3 separate regions of the Homo sapiens genome follow, and regions 1 and 3 are each linked to region 2. Evidence: fine-mapped expression QTL. A gene starts in region 2. Each other region holds a variant in brackets. All regions are shown on one strand. Distances are from middle to middle. Region 1 holds the start of GUCA1A (guanylate cyclase activator 1A). Region 2 holds the start of MRPS10 (mitochondrial ribosomal protein S10). Region 3 overlaps GUCA1B (guanylate cyclase activator 1B).

Region 1 (7,860 bases), 43 kb after region 2:
AGTCCCAACCCACCTCCCAGGACTGTCATCAGCACAGAGCCCAGAGAGGCCCCTAGACAGCACAGCTTGAATAAGCAAGAAAACTGCTAAAGAGGTTTCCTCTGGGGGAGGGGACACCAGGTGAGGATACTTTTGCTCTTCATTTTTTATCTTTCTGTATTGCTGGAAATTTCTACAATGAGCTGGATTGCTTTTGCAGGTTTTTTTTTTAATGTCTAAAAAGGGGCAATGGAAAAGGTGTGGATTTTTGTGCCAGAAAGATCTAAATCACCTTGGATAAGTCACATGACCTTGAGTCTCCGTATTCCCAGGTATAAAATGGAATGACAGTGTGCACTTTTCAAGATTGTGGTATGCATTAGATTCAATGAAAATATATAGCAATACTAACTTTTCTTAGTGCTCTCCATGGACTTCCTAGGCTGAGTGCTTTATTCATTTTACTCATTTAATCTCAAGCCACCCCCAAGAGGTGAATATTTTTGTCTCTAGTTTGAATGACAAAGCCAAAGTTGAGAGAGATTAGGCCAAACAGCTAGTGAATGACAAAGCCTCTCCTAAATCATCCTATATCAGTACTCAAATGCAGATGGAGATTTGCATTGATTTGTGTGCACCTGTGTGATTGTCAGACAAACCCAAGCCCAGACAAACATTTGAAGTAAGCAAAGCAAATGGCCTGTCCCCCAGGTTTCACTCCCCAGTCACACTCTGTACTCCCCAGCCCTGCACATCTGGTGCAATACCCAAAGATACAACCATTTTTTAGTGCAAGGGCTGGCACTTGCACTAAAAACTTTTTAGTTTTTATTAGAAAATGGCAAACTTTTTCTGTAAAGAGCCAAAGAGTAAATATGCAGCTTTGCAGCCAAACACCCTCTGTCATTTTACGTGAAAGCAGCCATAGACAATTCTCTACGTAAATAAATAGATGTGGTGAGTTCTAATAAAACTTCATTTACAAAAACAGGCCTGTGTGCTGTCATTTGCCTGTCCCTGTTTAACTCCTCTCTGTATCAAAACTTCTGGACAGGTGCAGTGGCTCACACCTGTAATCCCAGCACTTTGGGAGGCCGAGGCAGGTGGATCACCTGAGGTCAGGAGTTCGAGACCAGCCTGGCCAATGTGGTGAAAACCTGTCTCTACTAAAAATACAAAAATTAGCCAGGCGTGGTGGTGGGCACCTGTAATCCCAGCTACTCAGGAGGCTGAGGCAGAAGAATCACTTGAACCCAGGAGGTGGAGGTTGCAGTGAGCCGAGATCGTGCCATTGCACTCCAGCCTGGGTGACAAGAGCAAAACTCCATCTCAAAAAACAACAACAACAACAAAAAACAAAACAACAACAACAACAAAAACTTCCCAATCCTGTGTTCCATCTCCTAGCCAATCTGCTAAACTGCTCCATGCTGATGACAATGGGTCAAGACAGTATTATGCAAAGTGTGATTGTGTGCCATGGGTGTAGATGAGGCAGGTTGGGTGTTACAAAGTCACTCTTCATTTTAATATTTGCAGAGTTAAATTGATGTATATTATAAAATAACTAGCCATTAAATTCCTGATTTCTCATATATTCATTCACTCATACAATGAATATTATTAAGCACCTGCCACAATCCAGGCACTGTTCTAGGAACCAGGGATTCAACAGTGAACAAGACAAAAATCCCTGCCCACATGGAGCTCACATTCCAGCAGGGGGAGACAGGCGATAAACGTAATGGTGAAATGTTATTTAAATCTGGTATTGGAAGACGACAGGTGCTTGCGGGGAAAGGTGGGACTAGGAAATGCAGAGGTGGGAACCAGTCCCAGTTTTAAACAGAGTTTAAACCAGAAGATCACGGCAGGGGTTAGTGAGGAGACTTCTAAGCAGAGACTTGCAGCAGAGGAAGGTGTAAGCCGAGCAGAATTCTGGGGGCAGAGAGGGTCCCAGGCAGCACAAAACCCCTAAGGCGGGGGTGTGTGTGGAATAAGGGAGGAGGCCAGACTGCCTAGAAACAAGGGGTTGATTTACTTTCAGTGGAAAGACAAGGGTCAGGTTTGGTACAGTACAGGTGGTGCTCGCATGGGACACACATTAAGACATGGTTGGCTCAGCGTGGTGGCTCACGCCTGTAATCCCAGCACTATGGGAGGCCGAGGTGGGCGGATCACCTGAGGTCAAGAGTTTGAGACCGGCCTGGCCAACATAGTGAAACCCCATCTCTACTAAAAATACAAAAATTAGCCAGGCATGGTTGTGGGTGCCTGTAATCCCAGCTACTTGAGAGGCTGAGTGAGGCAGAAGAATCGCTTGAGCCCAGGAGGTGGAGGTTGCAGTGAGCCGAGATCACGCCACTGCACTCCAGTCTGGGCGACAGAGCGAGACTCCATCTCAAAAAAAAAAAAAAAAAAAAAAAAAGACATGATTAGGCAAATACAGGGTCGATGTGCCCCAGGGTTGCCCTCCCCCACCCCCACCGGCGTCATATGTGTGACTGTAAGGGTCCTTCTGCAGACATGTCTTAACCCAAAGGGTTTTCTTAGCAGGTGAGAAGATGAGATATGTCGCTGTTTGGGGGTAAGGTGTGAGGCTCAACCATCCATTTGTCCTTCCCCTCCTGTTCAGGAGTTATTCCTTCTTCGGGAGCATTTTGAGTGTTGAATGTGATGATGCCATCCCTCCCAGTCTCTGTACACAGGCTCTGGACTCTGCTCACCTGCTCCCGCTTCGGGAAAGCCCTTGGGCTCCCTCATACTACACCTGAGGTTGACACTCAAAGCCCGTAATCTACTTTGGTCCCTTATCCTTAAATATTAGTGAGTTTTAAATAGCCACTGAGCCCCAGCTTTCCCAAGAAGCCCCACCCATGATGGTGCCTGGACCTTCTGGGCAGCGAGGGAAGGAACCTCTCCCGGGTCTGCAGAGGACACGCGGCAGCGCCTCATTGCATCCTCACTTTTCAAGTGAGGGGCCACAGGGTGGGGAGCCACGTTTGCAGATTTGGGCTCTTCCACAACTATGTCTTGACCAAATAGTTCCAAATGAATGGAAGATTTACTATGAAAACCAACAAACATCTTAACTAATGCTCCCAACATCCACGGCATCATGAATATACTGGGACTGAGAGGGGAAATGATGGGCTCAAGGTCACCCAGCGGATGAAAGCTAGGGACCCAAACCCACAGTCCCAAACTCACCTTTCAGTGACCCCTCTAGCTTATCAATTAGGAAGTCCTTACCTAATGCGTCCAGGTGGCTACTGAGGAGACACAATTTGACCACGGTGTGGACCTTCAGGCTCACTTGAGAAAAGGTGATATGAGGTCACTGGGTATTTTGAAGTTGGGAGCATTCTGGGTTCTCCAGGGACCAGGCAACCCTGTCTGTCTCCAGTCCTCATGTCCGCAGAATATTATAAGTGGCCTGCCCATGCCAGACAGTGAGGCTAG[A/G]GAATCATCATCTTGCTCCCTGCTCTCTGCCCCTCTGCCCACATCCTTGGGAGCTTCAAAGGGTGTTTGCAAAAGCACCACGTATAGGACCAGCACATCGCAGGTGTTCAATGACCATCTTGGAAGTGTTTACACTCGTTTTGGAGTAAACCAAGATATGCCTGTGGCAGAGGTGGAGGAAGCCATTGGATTCAGCCTCGGATTACACTAATGTGTGGGCCTCTCTGTCTTGCCCTAGAAAGTGAGGGCAGGGACAATGTCTGATACATTTCTAACCCCCCAGTGCCTGATTCACAGTTGGTGCTCATTAAAGCACAAACATTAGATCCGTTGAAACCCTAGTGTCAAAAACCCACCTATCAAATAAACAAATGACTGTATAAATGAAGTTGCTCCCCAGCGGACACTTCTATGCTCCTCTCTGCTCTTCCTCACCCCCAGCTGGTCAGGCTTCCAGAGGGGTCCCTCCAGCACTTCCCCTCCCTGCCACTGGGCCCCTGCTCACCTTGTTGAAGTCAAAAGTCTCAAACATCTGTTCCACGTACTGGCTGGCCGACGGGCTCAGGTTCTTGAGGCCGAAGAACTGGCGGAACTCATAGAGGGTGAGTTGGCCAGAGGGGCACTCAGTCATGAACTTCTTGTACCACTGGTGGCACTCGGTGCTGCTCAGCTCCTCCACTGACTTTCCCTCCATCACGTTGCCCATTGCTCAGGCCTTCAGGGGGCTGACGTCTGAGATGGACAGGCCCTGTTCGCTGCTCCTCGCCCAAAGGTGTCTTGGCCGACAACGGGGCCGTCCTCTCTCACAGGCCTGAGTCCTTCAGGCCTGAGCAAAGAAGGGCCTGATGGATCAGATGGTACCGGGAAATGTGGAGAGGGAGAGAGCAGAAGGAAGAAGATGATGGCCCACACTCAAACTCACAGATGCCAGAGAACTGGTGTTAAGAGTCTCCACTAAATCCTTGCAGCCCCAGGGGAGACTGTACCCTGGAGAAAAGAGTTGAAAATAGAACAAGGCTTAGAGAAGCAGAGTCCTTAGGATTACAGCCTTGAGCTGTAGGTGAGAGGATTTTTTAACCCAGTTTGCAATCTTCTAATCCCTTCTTACCACCACGGAGTGGGTGTCAGCTAGAAGCTGCTCTGATCCTATGACCTTTGTGACCTTCTTCTCCTGGTTTGAGTGGATTCACAGTGGTTTTGGATTCTGCCTTCAATCATGGAATTGAGGTATATATGAGATAGAGCTGGCTTCTTGTCCAGAGATGGCCAACTGTGGGCTCTTGACAGGGCTGCTGTGTACAGTTATCCAGGCTGTGCACTGCACTTGGCCATCACAACTGAGGGGGTCCAATCATACCATGAGTGTGCTAACATTTGAGGGCACCTGGGTGGATGCAGAGTCTGTGGGCTTCCAAGATAAGCCTTGAACAGCCAGAGAGAACCCCCTCCTACATTAGCCTGCACCAGTACACAGAGACGTGCACACACATACACACACTCGTACACACTCATCCTGTTCTGGCCACACTCTCATGTTCCTGAAGGTTGCATCTCTCCCTTCTTGAGAGCCCTGAATTCATCCTTCCATCTAATTCTGAGCCTCACATCATCACCATCACCTACTAGGGGCACAGGGCAGGGGACATGGAGTGTGCGCCTGGTGCCCTGGGGTATGTGTGAGTGTGAGAGTGCAGGCACACAGGTGCATGGGTGAGCTGCTACCTGCTGGTCCTGGAAAGCTCCCAGGCCAAGCCTGGGGGCCTGTCTATGCAGCAACAGCTTTCTCTGATGCCTGGTGGGATGCGTACTCCCTAGCCACACACTTAAAAGCTGGCTCATTTATGGAACCAGCATTTGGGTGCAGGTGCACTTAACCTGGATGCTGCCAGGAAAGCTTAAAGCCAGCGCTTGCCCTGCCCTGTCTTTTTCTCTTGTTTGCCTTCCTCCTTTACATATGGGGCACACCCAGGTCTCCTAACTCATCTAGAGGGAACCACTGCCCATATTTCTGCTTTCCCCACCAGGGCCTTGGACACTTGGTCAAGTTGTGCACTGATACACAATTTATATGATTTATATAAATAATATATAATTACATGTAAATAGATTTATATAAATATACAATTTATACAACATATAACATATATCAAATACATGTGCATACATATTTCAGAATGGGCTAGGTTATGCTACAGTAACAAACCACTCTAAAATCTCAGTGGCTGAAAACAATACAAGCTTGTTTCTTGCTTACATTACTGGCTGGGTGACCTTGAGCAAGTAACTTAACCTCTCTGGGCCCCAGTTTCCTCATTCTTAAAATAGGAATAATGGCGCCCATCTGATAGGGCTGTTAAGGGGAGTAAGTGGGGCTGGGCACGGTGGCTCACACCTGTAATCCCAACATTTTGGGAGGCCGAGGCGGGTGGATCACTTGAGGCCAGGAGTACGAGACCAGCCTGGCCAACATGGTGAAACCTCATCTCTATTAAAAATACATAAATTAGCCAGGCGTGATGGTGCACACTCCTGTAATCCCAGCTACTCGGGAGGCTGAGGCAGGAGAATCGCTTGAACCCAGGAGGCGGAGGTTGCAGTGAGCCAAGATCGCACCACTGCACTCCAGCCTGAATGACAAAGCGAGACCCTATCTCAAAAAAAAAAAAAAAAAAGAGTATGTGAGTTAATATAAGAAAAGCATTTAGAACAAGGTCTGCCCCAGAGTAAGTGCCCCATAAATCTTGGCTATGATGTTATGATTTTGTATCTATTACAGCAGCATGTCTGATGTGCTGTTCACTACAATCTAGGTGCACTTATACTGCATCTTGGACACAGCAGCATCCCTGGGTTAGAGCCAATCGTGCTCTTGTCCCTTTAGCCCCATTCACTCTGGGCCCTGGACGGCCAGAAGGGCTATGTGTAGGAACAGACATCCAACCTGCCTCACACAGGCCACCTACCAGCTGTAGTCAGGCCCTAGGGAAGGTGGAGGCCTTTGTTAAAGCCTTACCAGATCCAGGCTCACGCCTGTAATCCCGGCACTTTGGGAGGCTGAGGCGGGTGGATCACAAGGTCAGGAGTTCGAGACCAGCCTGGCCAACATGGTAAAACCCCATCTGTACTAAAAATACAAAAATTAGCCAGGCATGGTGGTGGGCGCCTGTAATTCCAGCTACTTGGGAGGCCGAGGCAGGAGAATCACTTCAACCTGGGAGGCGGAGTTTGCAGTGAGCCGAGACTACGCCATTGCACTCCAGCCTGGGCGACAGAGAGAGACTCCATCTCAAAAAAAAAAAAAAAAATTGTTCATAATGAACATATGTTGCTCACAAAATCAAAGAGGATAGTTATTTTTGAAAAAGAGACAAACTGGGACTGTTTTACCTCTACTCCACATGAATTGATTGACGGAAGGTATATGGGGGTGGGGAGCTGGGTTCTCCCTGCTTCAGTCAGCTTCTCCACAACAAGTTAAGGGACGGGGAGAGAAGGACTCCTTCTGTGAACTTGCTTGGGGCCCAGCTGGAAAATGTGTCCTTGCCGAGGACTCTCAGGCCCAAGATTGGGAAATGAAGAGGTTGGGGACAAGGCAGCCGCTCATCTTTCCCTTTCTATTTAAATCCCTCTCACTCTTCATGTGTGAGTACAAATGCCACCTCCTCTGTGAAGCCTTCCCAAATCTCTCTCAAATATCTTCCTCCCACAGCATACTGACATTTTGCTTATGTGTTGTGACAGTTAATTTTAGGACTGGATGAAGGGATTACCCAACAAGCTGGTAAAGCTTTATTTCTGGGTGTTTCTGTGAGGGTGCTTGCCAAAGAGACTGGCATTTGAATTCATGGACTAAGTAAGGAGAATCTGCCTTCAGCCTATGTGGGTGGGCACCATCCAATTGGCTTAGGCCTGGACAGAAGAAAAAGGCAGGGGAAAGGTGAATTCTCTCCCTCTCTCTCTCTCTCTCTGTCCTGGAGCTGGGACACTCTTCTTCTCCTGCCCTTGGACTCCAGGACTTGCACCAGTAGCAACCCCTCCCCACTCTCACGTTCTCAGTCCTTCAGCTTCAGACCCAGAGTTACACCATCAGTTTCCTTGGCTCTGAACCCTTTGGGCTTGAACTGAGCCATGCTACTGGCTTCCCTGGTTCTCCATCTTGCAGATGGCATATTGTGGGACTTCTCAGCCTCCATAAACATGTGAGCCAATCCCCCTAATAAATCTTCTCTCATACCTCTATATATAATCCTATTAGCTCTGTCTCTCTGAAGAACTCTGGCTAATGTGTGTGTTATATTAGTTTTCTATGTTGCATAACAAATAACCACAAAGTCAGCAGTTTTAAAACTACACACATTTATTATTATTATTATTATTATTATTATTATTATTATTATTATTATTTTGAGATGGAGTTTC
Region 2 (7,860 bases):
CCCCATTGGCTGAGAGAAATCCCCTTAAGTGTCACAATTCAGAGAGAGAGACTGATTCTGAGAAGGGCACTGGGCAACCTGCCAACATGGGGCATCACCGAGTCCAGCAGAAGGGCACACAGGTGAGGCCGGGTGTGGTGGCTCAAGCCTGTAATCCCAGCACTTTGGGAGGCCAAGGTGGGCGGATCAGGAGGTCAAGAGATTGAGACCAGCCTGGTCAACATGGAGAAACTCCGTCTCTACTAAAAATACAAAAATTAGCTGGGCGTGGTGGCGCATGCCTGTAATCCCAGCTACTCAGGAGGCTGAGGTAGGAGAATCACTTGAACCCAGGAGGTGGAGGTTGCAGTGAGCCAGGGTCATGCCATTGCACTCCAGGCTGGGCAACAAGAGTGAAACTCCGTCTCAAAAATAAATAAATAAGAAGTGCACACAGGTGAAGTGTGCTGTTTCCATACCCTGTTGCAAGGCCACACTGGAATCTCTGCCACACCTCAACACGGACTGAATTCTAGTAAACAGAGGCCAGCCTGAGGGGCAGGAAAACTGGTTTCTGCTCCTAGACCTTTTCTATCTCCTAGATAGGTGTGATGTTGGGCAAATCATTCTGCCTCTTCTTTGGTTCTCTTGCCTGCAAAATAGGGTAGTAATAACTATTTGTGGGGAGAAAAAAAAAACAACTTTATATTTGTACAGTTCTTTATTTGGATGCTATAAAATATTCTCATAAACTTGATCTTTTTATTTTTAATCTTCTCAACAACCTTGTGAGGCAGGTGAGGTAGAAACTTAATGGCACAAATAGTGGATGACATCTATAGTGTATCATTACATGGCAGTATTGTACTAAACACCATATATTGGTATTGCATTGAATTCCCAAGCAACTATTGGAAGCAGGAACTACTGTTATCTTTTTTTTTTTTTTTTTTTTGACATATGAGCAAACTGAGGCTGAGGGTAAGGAAGTAACTTGCTCAAAGTCACTCAACTAACTGGTAAGCCTGGGATTAGAAACCAGATCTGATTATAAGGCTAGAGTTTTCCATTAGGCTAAAATGCATATGTGAAAGCACTTTGGGGAAATAAAGCTTAGAAATGTGAACAAATGGGCCAAGTGCAGTGGCTCATACCTGTAAAACCAGCACTTTGGGAGGCCAAGGTGAGAGGATTGCTGGAAGCCAGGAGTTTGAGACCAGCCTGGGCAACATAGCAAGTCTCTGTCTCTACAAAACAATAAAAATAAAATAAAAAATGGTCGCAAACACCTGTAGTTTTAGATACTCCAGAGGCTGTGGTGTGAGGATCACTTAACCCCAGGAGTTTGAGGCTGCAGTGGGCTATGATCAAGCCAGTGCTCTCCAGCCTGGGCAACAGAGCGAGACACTGTCTCACACACACACACAAAAAAGACAATATAGTATTATAGAAGCAGACTTTAAGATGAGGAGAAAGTAAAAGGAAAAATAAAAATAAATTTTTAAAGATTTGCACAAATGGAATAAGTTTTTTTTTTGGAGACGGAGTCTCGCTCTGTTCCCTAGACTGGAGTGCAGTGGTACAATCTCAATCTCGGCTCACTGCACTCTCTGCCTCCCGGGTTCAAGAGATTCTCCTGCCTCAGCCTCCCAAATAGCTGGGATTACAGGTGCACACCACCATGCCTGACTTTGTATTTTTAGTAGAGACAGGGTTTTGCCATGTTGGCCAGGCTGATCTTGAACTTCTGACGTCAGGTGATCCACCCGCCTTGGCCTCCCAAAGTGCTGAGTGCTGGAATTACAGGTGTGAGCCGAGCCACTGCACCTGGCCTTTTCTTTTCTTTTCTTTTTTTTTTTTTTTTTTTAGACAGAGTCTCATTGTGTCTCCCAGGCTGGAGTGCAGTGGCACGATCTTGCCTCACTGCAACCTCCACTTCCCGGGTTCAAGCAATTCTCGTGCCTCAGCCTCCTGAGTAGCTGGGACTACAGGCACACAACGATGACACCCCACTAATTTTTTGTATTTTTAGTAGAGATGGGGTTTCACCATGTTGGCCAGGCTGGTCTCGAACTCCTGACCTCAGGTGATCCGCCCACCTCAGCCTCCCAAAGTGCTGGGATTACAGGCGTGAGCCACCGCACCCAGCCTGAAGAAGTTTTTATTATAGCAAATCCCAGTTATACATCTTTTTACTTGGAAAAAATTATGGTGGACATTAATAATTAGACAAAACACTTTGGCTTGTTGTAAGTGAAGCTAGCCATTGTAAATTCCTAAATACTAGAGTAACATAAGGAAATGAATAATTTAGAAAGATCAGTAGGACAGCGGTATACAAAATGGTTGGAGCACAGGAATTCCAATTGGTGTGGGGAAGGAAGAAAGGATTAAGAACCATAATTAGAAAGCCGCTGCAATAAGGTAACTGAGTGGCAACTGGACCCAATGGTAGTGGCCGACTTTTCTTTTTCTTGTTAAATATAGATTTTGTTAAAATTTTGAAAAATGCAAAAAAAATTGAAAAATGCAAAAATAGGAAAATAAATCACCCATTATTCCAGTACTGAAGTAAATGGTGTCAATACACTAGTTTCAGTCCGGGCTTTGTGGTTCATGCCTGTAATCTCAGTCCTTTGGGAGGCCAAGGCCAGAGGATCACTTGAGGACAGGAATTCAAGACCAGCCCACAAAATAACGAGAGCAATATAATGAGACCCTGTCTCTACAAGAAAATTAAAAAAAAAAACAAAAAATTAGTCGGCTGTGGTGGCACGCACTTGTAGTCCAGCTACTTGGGAGGCTGAGGCAGGAGGATCACTTGAGGCAGGAGTTTGAGGCTGCAGTGAGCTATGACTGTGCCACTGCACTCCAGCCTGGGCAGCCGAGTGAGACTCAGTCTCTAAAAGGAAAAAATAAGTAAATAAATAAATGTGTGTGTGTGTGTGTGTGTATACACACACAACAATTTAAAGGTGAAAACATTAATAGGGCTTGGTAACTATCCAGACACTGGCCGGAGCCAAACCAGCCTGGCCAGCCAACTGTCCCGCCCCCAAAAAGCACAGGTTCATGTCTCTATGGTTGTTCCAGCGCCGGAACATGAGGATGTACTCTCTTCTTTTGCGGAACTCTATGGTCTGAGGACGCCGCTGTAACCCCGGAAGCAATCCTGAGAGGTCGGGACCGGCAAGATGGCGGCGCGGACAGCGTTCGGTGCTGTGTGCCGGCGCCTCTGGCAGGTACTGGATTGGCTAGGGAGACTAGGAGGGCTGACCGGGATAGTTGCTTTTAAGTTTCCCTGCCACCAGCCGCTCTGCCCATCAGGATTTTTCCTGATATTTATCCCTCACCTCGCGCCGTTTACAGGAAAGTGACGAGAAAGGGGCTAGTTTTATCAGAATTCTCTCATGGAATTAAATATAAGTTAGTGAGTCCAGGCAAAGATAGGAACAAGAATAATCGTAGAATGTCAGAGCTGGAAAAGATTTTGTACTTCGTATGTTCCAAAACCCCTCCTTTCACGCTTGCAAAATAAACTGAGGCTCAGAGAAGACAGGAAATTTGCCTCGCGAAAATTAGAGGCTGAGCTGGTGCAAGATATCAGACTCTTCCCATGGAACTAAATTGAGATGCTTTCCTGGCATCCAAATTTAGATGAAGGTCTCAAGCCAGAGAAGTGGGTTAGATATCCTCTGCGCAGTTATTTGCAGGAGGAGCAAAAACTTTTCAGCAGCGGTTCTCCTGCTTTTTGGCCTTGGGACCACTTTACACTTTCGGAGTTCAGGACTCCAGAGAGCTTTTGTTTTTGTGGGTTTTTGCTATCTATATTTAGCTTTTTGGAAAATAAAACTTAAGAATATATATTGATTTAAAAGTAACACTAACTCATTACATGTTACAACTAATACTTTATGAAAAATATATTTTCTGAACAAACTGAGTAAGGAGCAGCAATGTTTTACATTTTTGCAGCTCTCTTTAATTTCTGGCTTAATAAAAGCTAGATTCAAATCTGCTTCTGTATTTAATCTTTTCCTATATCACACCTCAGGCTGTCACGGGAAAACTTCACTGTACACTGGTAAGAGAATGAGTGGAAAAGTTGTAAATGACGTTTTGGTTTTATGAAAATAGTTTTGATTTCCCGGATCCCCTGAAAGTGTCTCAGACCCCACAGACGTCCTCAGACTACACTTTGAGACCACCGTTTTTGTTTTTGTTTTTGTTTGGAGACGGAGTTTCGCTCTTGTCGCCCAAGCTGGAGCGCAATGGCACGATCTCGGCTCACTACAGCCTCCACCTCCCGGGTTCAAGTGATTCTCCTACCTCAGCCTCCCGAGCAGCTGGAATTACAGTCATGCGTCACCATGCCCAGCTAGTATTTGTATGTTTAGCAGAGACGGGGTTTCACCATGTCGGTCAGGCTGGTCTCGAACTCCTGACCTCAAGTGATCCGGCAGCCTCGGCCTCCCAAAGTGCTGGGATTACAGCCTTGAGCCACCGCACCCGGCCTGAAAACCACTGTTCTTGAGAAAAGTCAGATGGTATTAGAGATTGAAATTTTTGAACTGCTTTATTAAGACAAATTTACCCAGACAGCCCTCCCTTCCAAACCACCACTCCCCCAACACACACACACACACACACACACACACTCTCTCTCTCTCTCTCTCTCTCTCTCAAGAAATACAAAGAAAAAATGCAATTTAAAAACTTCTTGGCCGGGCACGGTGGCTCACGCCTGTAATCCCTACACTTTGGGAGGCCGAGGTGGGCGGATCACGAGATCAGGAGATCAAGACCATCCTGGCTAACATGGCAAAACTCCGTCTCTACTAAAAATACAAAAATTAGCTGAGTGTGGCGGTGGGCCCCTGTAATCCCACCTACTCAGGAGGCTAAGGCAGGAGACTTGCTTGAACCCAGGAGGCGGAGGTTTCAGTGAGCTGAGAATGCTCCACTGTACTCCAGCCTGGGCGACAGAGCAAGACTCTCTCAAAAAAAAAAAAAAAAAGAAAAGAAAAAAAAAAGAAAAGAAAAAGCAGAGGTTTATAGTGGGAGAATGTGACTGAGAAGTGTAATATTCTTGCTCCTCTTGCACAACTCGATTGTGGGGTCACTGGTGTAATTGTTGGGAGGGAATTTTCTATGCAATTTTGTCTGAAGAATGGCACATACCTCTTACCACTTTGTGTTGTACCTGATTTCCTTTTTCCTTTTCCCCTTTGGTGCAAAGAAGATTATAGAGTTATGATTTGTCTCTATCTTGGGTAAGGAGAGGAAGGACAATAAGCTAAGAATAGGCTTTTAAAACGTGGCTAGGTGGTGGTTCACTCCTGAAATCCCAGCACTTTGGGACACTGAGGCTGGAGGATCGCTTGAGCCCACGAGTTCAAGACCAGCCTGGGAAATATGGTGAAACCCCATCTCTACAAAAGTACAAAATATTAGCTGGGCCTGGTGGCCCGTGCCTGTAGTCCCAGCTATCTGGGAGACTGGGGTGGGAGGACCACCTGAACCTGGGAGGTCCAGGCCATGATCATGCAACTGCACTCCAGCCTGGATAACAGAGTGAGACCTTGTCTCAAAAAAACCCTGAAAAAACAAACAAAAACGTACTTAGGTGACAATCATTTGTATTAATGAAACTTCACTTATGCTAAACTTCTTTTTTTTTTTTTGAGAGGGAGTCTCGCTCTGTCACCCAGCCTGGACCTCCGCCTCCCGGGTTCAAGCGATTCTCCTGCCTCAGCCTCCCAAGTAACTAGGATCACAACCGCACCGCCACCATGCCTGGCTAATTTTTGTATTTTTAGTAGAGACAGGGTTTCACCATGTTGGCCAGGCTGCTCTGGAACTCCTGACTACAAGTGATCCACCCACCTTGGCCTCCCAAAGTGCTGGGATTACAGGTGTGAGCCACGGCACCTGGCCTTATTTTCATCTTCATTGTGTTTTTAAGGATTCTATTGTGTTTCCACTTTCTCAGGTTACACTTCAAAATCTCAGAAAAGTTGAAAGGAAAAAACAGCTGTTATATGTAGTAGTATCGTTTGTTTCCTAAAACTGGAAAGTCTTGTTCCACCAGGGGGAGCTGATGGTAAAGGATTTGGAAATGTGGGTTCGTTGTAGCATGTGGCACAGTAGTTAATGATGGGTATAAGTCACAGCACATATTTCAGTTCATTATAAGCTAGTTATCCCAGCCAAGCTAAGAAATATGTATGCTTTAAAAGATGTATGAAAGCATCAAAAGAGGGATACTTCAGAATTTTTATTCCAACTCTTAACAAATTATAAAAACAATATATTTTATTGCTTAAAGATATTCAGGCAAAATAAGTATTATACTGAAGTACAATTAATTTGTAAAAAATAATGGGAAAATGAAGTCACATTTTTTCTTGATGTCCACATAATTCATAGCTTTTTTTAAATGTGAGAATTGTTTTTTTTGAAAAAGTTTTTATTCCTAATCTTTAAAATAGAGATTCTCTAGTATTTTGAGACTGCTTTTTTTTTTATCATCAGCTCTACCATTGTCCTCTTTTTTTTTTCAATCTAATTTGGCCATTTTAGTTACCCCAGTATCTTCGTCTGAAATAATGAGGTAACCTTTTAGTTTTTAGTGGAAATTATGAATGGTTTGGTAGTTGACTTTAATTCTAACACATGTCCTACTTTTTTTTTCTTTAGGGATTGGGGAATTTTTCTGTAAACACTTCTAAGGGCAATACAGCCAAAAATGGTGGCTTGCTTCTGTAAGTATACAATTGGATGTGCTAAATTGAACAAAATAGGTTCTTGTGCTATTTTACTTAGGTTTCTCTTTTTTTCCCCACACATAGCAGTACCAATATGAAGTGGGTACAGTTTTCAAACCTACACGTTGATGTTCCAAAGGATTTGACCAAACCTGTGGTATGTACTCCCTGTTTCTTGGTATAAGGAGCTACCTTGGCAATAGGTTTTCCTTATTATTTCATTGGGTTTTTTTTCCCCAAACACTCTATGAATAAAAAAATTTTGTCCTAGAATACTGGCAAATGCACAACGCATATATTCTCTTAACTCCCTGGATTATATTGTCTTCAGGGTATCAAAGTAAGTTCTAAAGGAATAAATTATTTACCCCCAAATAACTGTGTTAATTAGTAGTCTCTTGCTTTTAGCTTGGCATAATGGAAGAGTTGTCAGAATTTGTGATGTAGAATACTTGATTTATGTTATGGAAAAGTATTTTTCTTGTAGCCTTCAAGTCTTTGTTTTCATTTTGTGTATTGAGCCTGGGCCTGGACAGTGCTTTATTGTTCACAGTGAGAAAATGCGTTAGCACAAATAATAAACATCTAGAAGGAACTTGGTAACCCTGTAGAAGCTATGATTTCATCAATCCAGTTTTTTGTGTTACTTGTAATTTTTAAAAATCCTTTCATTTCCACCCCTCAAAAATAACCCCCTTTAACAGTTTGGGATTACAGTTCTAGACATTTGTCTGTAGGTACTCACTTTGTCTGTGCACATGTCTAGTTTACTGCTCTTTTCTAACTTTTCTCTTAATAGATATTGGATATTTATTTATTTATTTATTTTGAGACAGAGTCTCGCTCTGTCACCCAGGCTGGAGTGCAGTGGCATGATCTCGGCTCACCTCACCTCAGCCTCCTGGGTTCAAGTAGTTCTCATGCCTTAGCCTCCCGACTAGCTGGGATTACAGGCACACACCACCATGCCTGGCTAATTTTTGTATTCTTAGTAGAAATGGGGTTTTCCCATGTTGGCCAGGCTGGTCTCAAATTCCTGGCCTCAAGTGATCTGCCTGCCTCAGCCTCCCAAAGTGCTGGGATTACAGGCATGAGCCACCACACCTGGCCAGTA
Region 3 (5,333 bases), 25 kb after region 2:
TTCTTTCCACTCCGTCTCTCTTTACCTTTTCTGTCTCACTCACCAAACCCTTCTGTCTCTTCTCTTCCTTTTGTCCCTTTCCATCTTCTCTGTCTCTCCTTCCCTCCCTCCATCTCTTAGCTGTCGGCTGATGCTCCCTGTGTCCTCTTCTTGAGAGCTGAAGGGCGACTGGCAGACAGTCCAGGTCCTCTCTTTGTGTATTTTTGACCAAGACTCTGCAGCCCAATGACCGGGTTTTCGCATCTGCCAGAGCCCCTGTCACTCTAAACACTAGGAGCAAAAGAGATGTTCTAAATGAGACAAGGTATCTTAGCATGGGCTATGAGCTCCCTCTTGTTGGGGTTCTTCTGAGACTGGTCAGATCCTCCCTGTCAAGAATGCTGGAAGAGGCTCCTGCATGTATTGGGAGACTGGGCGAATGACTGCAAAAGCCCCTTTCAGCTCTTCAAGTCCTGGAAGGTTTCATTAAATCATTCAGACTAGAGTTTCTCTAAGCCCACAATGTCACTAGCAGCTAAGAAGATAACACATCTTGTAAATGCACCAGGGGATTGAATTTTAAATTTCAATTCAGTTAAAAACCCCTTGATTATTTAAGGTTATCCAGTTCAGTGCCCTGGCAATCCTCAAATACCTCAAATACCTCAAATGCCCTGGTATTTGCCTCAAATACCAATTTAATCTGAAGAAAGTGTCAGTTCTCCATTCCTCAGTGCGTGGAGAACTTAGCTTTCTAAGCTGAATCACTGGGAATGCCACTTCAGGTCTCATCCTGTCGCTGGTACCAGTCAGTGCACGTCCCCACAGTGCCTGTCCCGGGACAGGAGGGTGAGGTCAGCACCTTCAATTCAACAGAACCTCCTTAGAGATGAACCCCATCGACCACCCCACAGGGCACAGAGCCAGTTTCGGACTTCTCAGCGCTCCGCCTCTCTTAGGTCTCCTCTGAATCAGCAGCAACCCTGGGTGGGAGGGGCAGACTTTTGTTATTCCAAATTAAATGATGAGAAAGCTGGGCAAAAGGGAATGAATCGATTTGCCCAAGGTCTTAAGTGCTCCTGCCTAGAAGGCAGGTTTTTTAAAGAGAGAAGATGACTTTTTAAAATAATTGATGTTTTTTTAAAATGTAAGAAAAGTAAACAAATATATCAGGTCATAAATAATAAGACTCATTTAAGTCCATCAATCTTCCCCAGATTCATCTAAAAATCAATACGATCATGATTCAAGATCCAAAGGGCTGATTAAGCCCCTAGGCATATAGTTGTACTCCTTATACCTCATCTCTTCTTATAAATCGGCATATGATGTTCATCAATGTTTTTTCCTTTTTGAATAACTTTTTAATTTTACTATGATTCTAAATTTACAGAAGAGTTATAAGAATGATACAAGTAACTCCCATATGCAATTTATCCAAATTTCCCCAGTTATTCACATTTTATATCATTTACTTTATCATTCTGCCTCTCTCTGTATACATACATATATATAATGTATCCTATAAGTATATATACATATACATGATACATAATTTATACATATACTTTTTTTAAGAGAAAGCTATAGATATCATGCCCGTTTATCCCTAAGTATTTCAGTGTGTATTTTCTTTTTTGTTTTTGAGACAGAGTCTCGCTCTGTCACCCAGTGGCATGATTTCAGCTCTTTGCGGCCTCTGATTTCCCAGGCTCAAGGGATCCTCCCACCTCAACCTCTCAAGTAGCTGGGATTACAGGTGTGCACCACCATGCCTGCTAATTTTTGTATTATTTATTTATTTATGTTGGTAGAGATGAGGTCTCGCCATGTTGCCCAGGCTAGAGTGCAGTGGCACAATCTCAGCTCACTGCAATCTCCACCTCCTGAGTTCAAGCAATTCTCATGACTCATCCTCCTGAGTAGCTAGGATTACAGGTGCACACTCCCATGCCTGGCTAATTTTTGTATTTTTAGTAGAAACGGGGTTTCACCATGTTGACCAGACTGGTGTCGAACTCCTGACCTGAAGTGATTTGCCCACCCCGGCCTCCCAGAGTGCTGGAATTACAGGCATGAGCCACTGCACCCGGCCAGGTTTCTTTCTTTTTTCCTTTTTCTTTTCTTTTCTTTTCTTTTCTCTCTTTTTTTTTTTTTTTTTTTTTTTTTTTGAGTTGGAGTCTCGCTCTGTCACCCTGGCTGTAGTGCAGTGGTATGATCTTGGCTCACTGCAACCTCCACCTCCCAGGTTCAAGCGATTCTCCTGCCTCAGCCTCCCCAGTAGCTGGGACTACAGGCGAGCACCACCATGCCCAGCTAATTTTTGTATTTTTAGTAGAGATGGGGTTTCACCATGTTGGCCATGATTGTCTCCATCTCTTGACTTCATGATCCACCCGCCTCGGTCTCCCAAAGTGTTGGGATTACAGGCATGAGCCACCATGCCTGGCCTTCCTTTTTCTTTTTTTTTTTCTTTTTTTTTTTT[TG/G]TATGATCATACATTGCATTTACTTGTTGTATCTCCTTAGTCTTCTTTAACCTGGAATCTTTAATCTCAGCTTTTCTTTTTTATTTGACTGTGACATTTTTGAAGACTGCAGCTGAGTTATGTTGTAGGACAGCCCACAACTGGCGTTTGTCTAAATTGGTAGAATTGCCACTGATGTGATGTTGTGTCCTCGGTTCATCATACCATCCGGTACAAGACATCAGTTTGTCCCATCACTGGCGTAGTTAACTTTGATCACTTGGTTAAGGTGGTATCTGCCATGTTTCAACATTGTAAAGTTACTATTTTTTTCTTTGTAATTAATAAGCAACATGTAAGGATATATCTTGAGACTAAGTAAATATCCTATTGTTCAGTCAAATTTTCTACTGGCTTTGGCATCTGTTGATAATTTTCTAACCCCATCACCCCTTCTCTATTTATTAGTTGGCATTCCACTGTAAGGAAGAGCCTCCCTAGAAAGTGTTTTTCAGTTCCTCTCTCAGGGACTGAGCCTTCTTTCCCACTTAGTCTTTGTCTCCAAACCTACACCTGACTCCATTCCCCCTTATATCAAGGAGTGTCATTTCGGAACAATCGGTCTGAGATTTCTAAAGCAAATCCAATCAAAAGTGTTTATAGATGTGGTTCACACGTGAAAATGTGAGGTGATGGAAACCGGTTTGGTGGGGACAAAAAGGTAGGAACACCTCGTCTCTGCCACTCTCCCTTGCAACTCTCGTGGTTGCCCTATGACCGCCTGGAATGGAAGAAAGGGGAGGGTGAAGATCAGATGTCATTTAGGATTCTTATATAACATGCATTGAAGTCAGGGCTGGTGCACAAATATGGCCAATTCAAGGAGAAACAGGGCAGATAATCCCACAGAGCCGGTGACACGCCCATCCTATTCCTGAGTAGACAGAGCCATTTCCATCACTCTCAGGCCTCTGTGGGTAATTGGAGCTGACAAGGTCCCATGCATAGCAGATGAGATTAGTCCCAGCTGGACGTTTCCCAGAAATGGTCCTGGGGTTTCCAGTAACCTCTCAGATGAGATCACTTGTCTAGAGATCACTCTGGAATATGTCTCATATAAGGCAAGGAGTCATGGAAACTGAATCATGTTGAGAGAGGATGTTGTAGGAATAGAAGCTTCTGGACAAAGAATGAGGAAGACTCTGGAGATCTAGAGAGTGGGGATTTGTGAGTGGTTTCAGGTTTTGTTTTTGTTTTTCTTCTCTTGGCACCCCCAAGCACTAGGCTTATTTGCTGGACAGAAATAGATCTTAAGTGGAGACTGCAAGTTCTTCCGACGTGATGCACTGGAGGAGATGCATGCCTGGAAAAGCTCTGCCACTTGCTGGCTGGGTGGCCTGGGAACCTCTGGGTCTCAGGCTCCTCATCCATAAAATGGGGATAATAACTAATTCTCATTAAATAAGAAACACAAGATTGATTTGTGGTAAGCTTAATAAGTAACAACTACTCGAGAAAATAGCCTTTTAAAGAACTGACAACCATTGCTAAGTGTCTACCCTAAAAAAAGAAATACCAGAGATATAAGAAAAGGTATACGTGCAAAAAAAAAGTTCATTGTTTAATGGAAAATATTAGAAATATATTCAACAAAGGGAATGTTCAGTACCCCCTCCCCACCAAAAAAAAAAAAAAAAATGGAAGTTGACATTTTAACTAATTTTTAAAGACATGAGAAAATGTTACATGAGAATGAAGGAAACAAAATTATAAATATAATCTGACCTCAATTAGATAAGTATATGATGGGGAGTACGGAGACCATATATTTATAGGAATTATATAAAAGATATGAATAGAACACTTCAGGTACTAAGGTAAGCTCGTTTTGTTTTCTTCTTAGTTTTTCCTTAGGCTTCTTGCTGTTTCCCTCATTTTCTGCCATTTTCTCCTGTTGCTCAAACCTTGTTCACTGAGGCACCCCTTGATCTGGGGCTGGGGCTCCTGAGTGGCCTGACCCAGTGGGACAGAAGTGCTCTGGGCCATCAGTGTCATTTCTGATAACAAAGTCATGTGAATGACAGGCACTCCTGGGGGATCTGATAGCTCAGATTTTTGATTTGGAGAATGGAGTTCCCAACCTTGGAATAAGTGAGCACCTGTAAGTGAGACACTAGCACAGCTAACCCACTGCAGCCACCAACAGCAGCGGCAACAGCAGCCTGTCACCCCAAACACATCTGGAGAAGAAAGCAAGAATATATCCTCTTTCTTATTTACTGTTTTAGAAATCATTATTGCTGCCGCATTTCTGTTACAAGAAGGTTCTGTTGCTTCCTGGTGAGAGTCACCTTAGAAGTAGACTGTGCCTCTCCCCCTTCCTCTGCCCAATTAGCACCTGAGCTCTGCGCTCCCCAACCTTCCTGGATGGGCTGGAGGCACAGGCCTGTTGTTCGGTGTAATGTCCACTGGGACCTAGAAGTGGGTAGGGCTGGAGCCACTGCCTGTCTGCCTCTCTCTGACTTGGGGTGAATGAGAATGCAGAGGAAAATTTCAACATGGGCTCTGCTTTCTAATTCCTTCAAAACTGTCTTAGTCCCAAATTCAGATCAAGTCCATCATTGACTCATTGATTTATGAATATCTATTGGCTTACAATTCTGGCCATAAGTGGCACTGTGCTAGGCATGGAGGAGAAACCCAAGCAATGTCAACCCCTCTTTTCCCCAGGAGCATATAACATGGCTAGAGAACAAGACAAATCTAGGAAACAGTTAAGTGACAATGCCAGAGAAAGTCCCAAGCTGTGTAGAATAGACAGTAGAGGCTGTGGATGTTAGAATGAGGAGGGAGAGAGCACTATGGCTGAAGAGGTCAGAGAATAAAGGC

What was found.
Region 1: its variant is fine-mapped to the expression of MRPS10 in whole blood (TOPMed, PIP 0.95).
Region 3: its variant is fine-mapped to the expression of MRPS10 in monocytes after LPS (Fairfax 2014, PIP 0.95). The same link has a PIP of 0.9 or more in CD4 T cells, skin and subcutaneous fat.

Annotation. Positions count from the first base shown.
Region 1 is chr6:42,169,901-42,177,760 of GRCh38, reverse strand. It overlaps GUCA1ANB-GUCA1A (GUCA1ANB-GUCA1A readthrough), which reads right to left. Exons shown (of 5, transcript NM_001319062.2): 2 at 3,947-4,428. The coding sequence starts at 4,147. GUCA1A (guanylate cyclase activator 1A) reads right to left here and starts at 4,397. Exons shown (of 4, transcript NM_001384910.1): 1 at 3,947-4,397. The coding sequence starts at 4,147. The variant A/G (reference allele first, on the strand shown) is at 3,442.
Region 2 is chr6:42,213,163-42,221,022 of GRCh38, reverse strand. MRPS10 (mitochondrial ribosomal protein S10) reads left to right here and starts at 3,162. Exons shown (of 7, transcript NM_018141.4): 1 at 3,162-3,221; 2 at 6,679-6,743; 3 at 6,831-6,903. The coding sequence starts at 3,174. RefSeq lists enhancers at 2,995-3,274, 3,846-4,447, 4,448-5,050.
Region 3 is chr6:42,189,171-42,194,503 of GRCh38, reverse strand. The region is part of intron 1 of GUCA1B (guanylate cyclase activator 1B); the gene reads left to right. Among named protein-coding and RNA genes, the nearest start is that of GUCA1B, 3.1 kb to the left of the region's middle. The variant TG/G (reference allele first, on the strand shown) is at 2,465.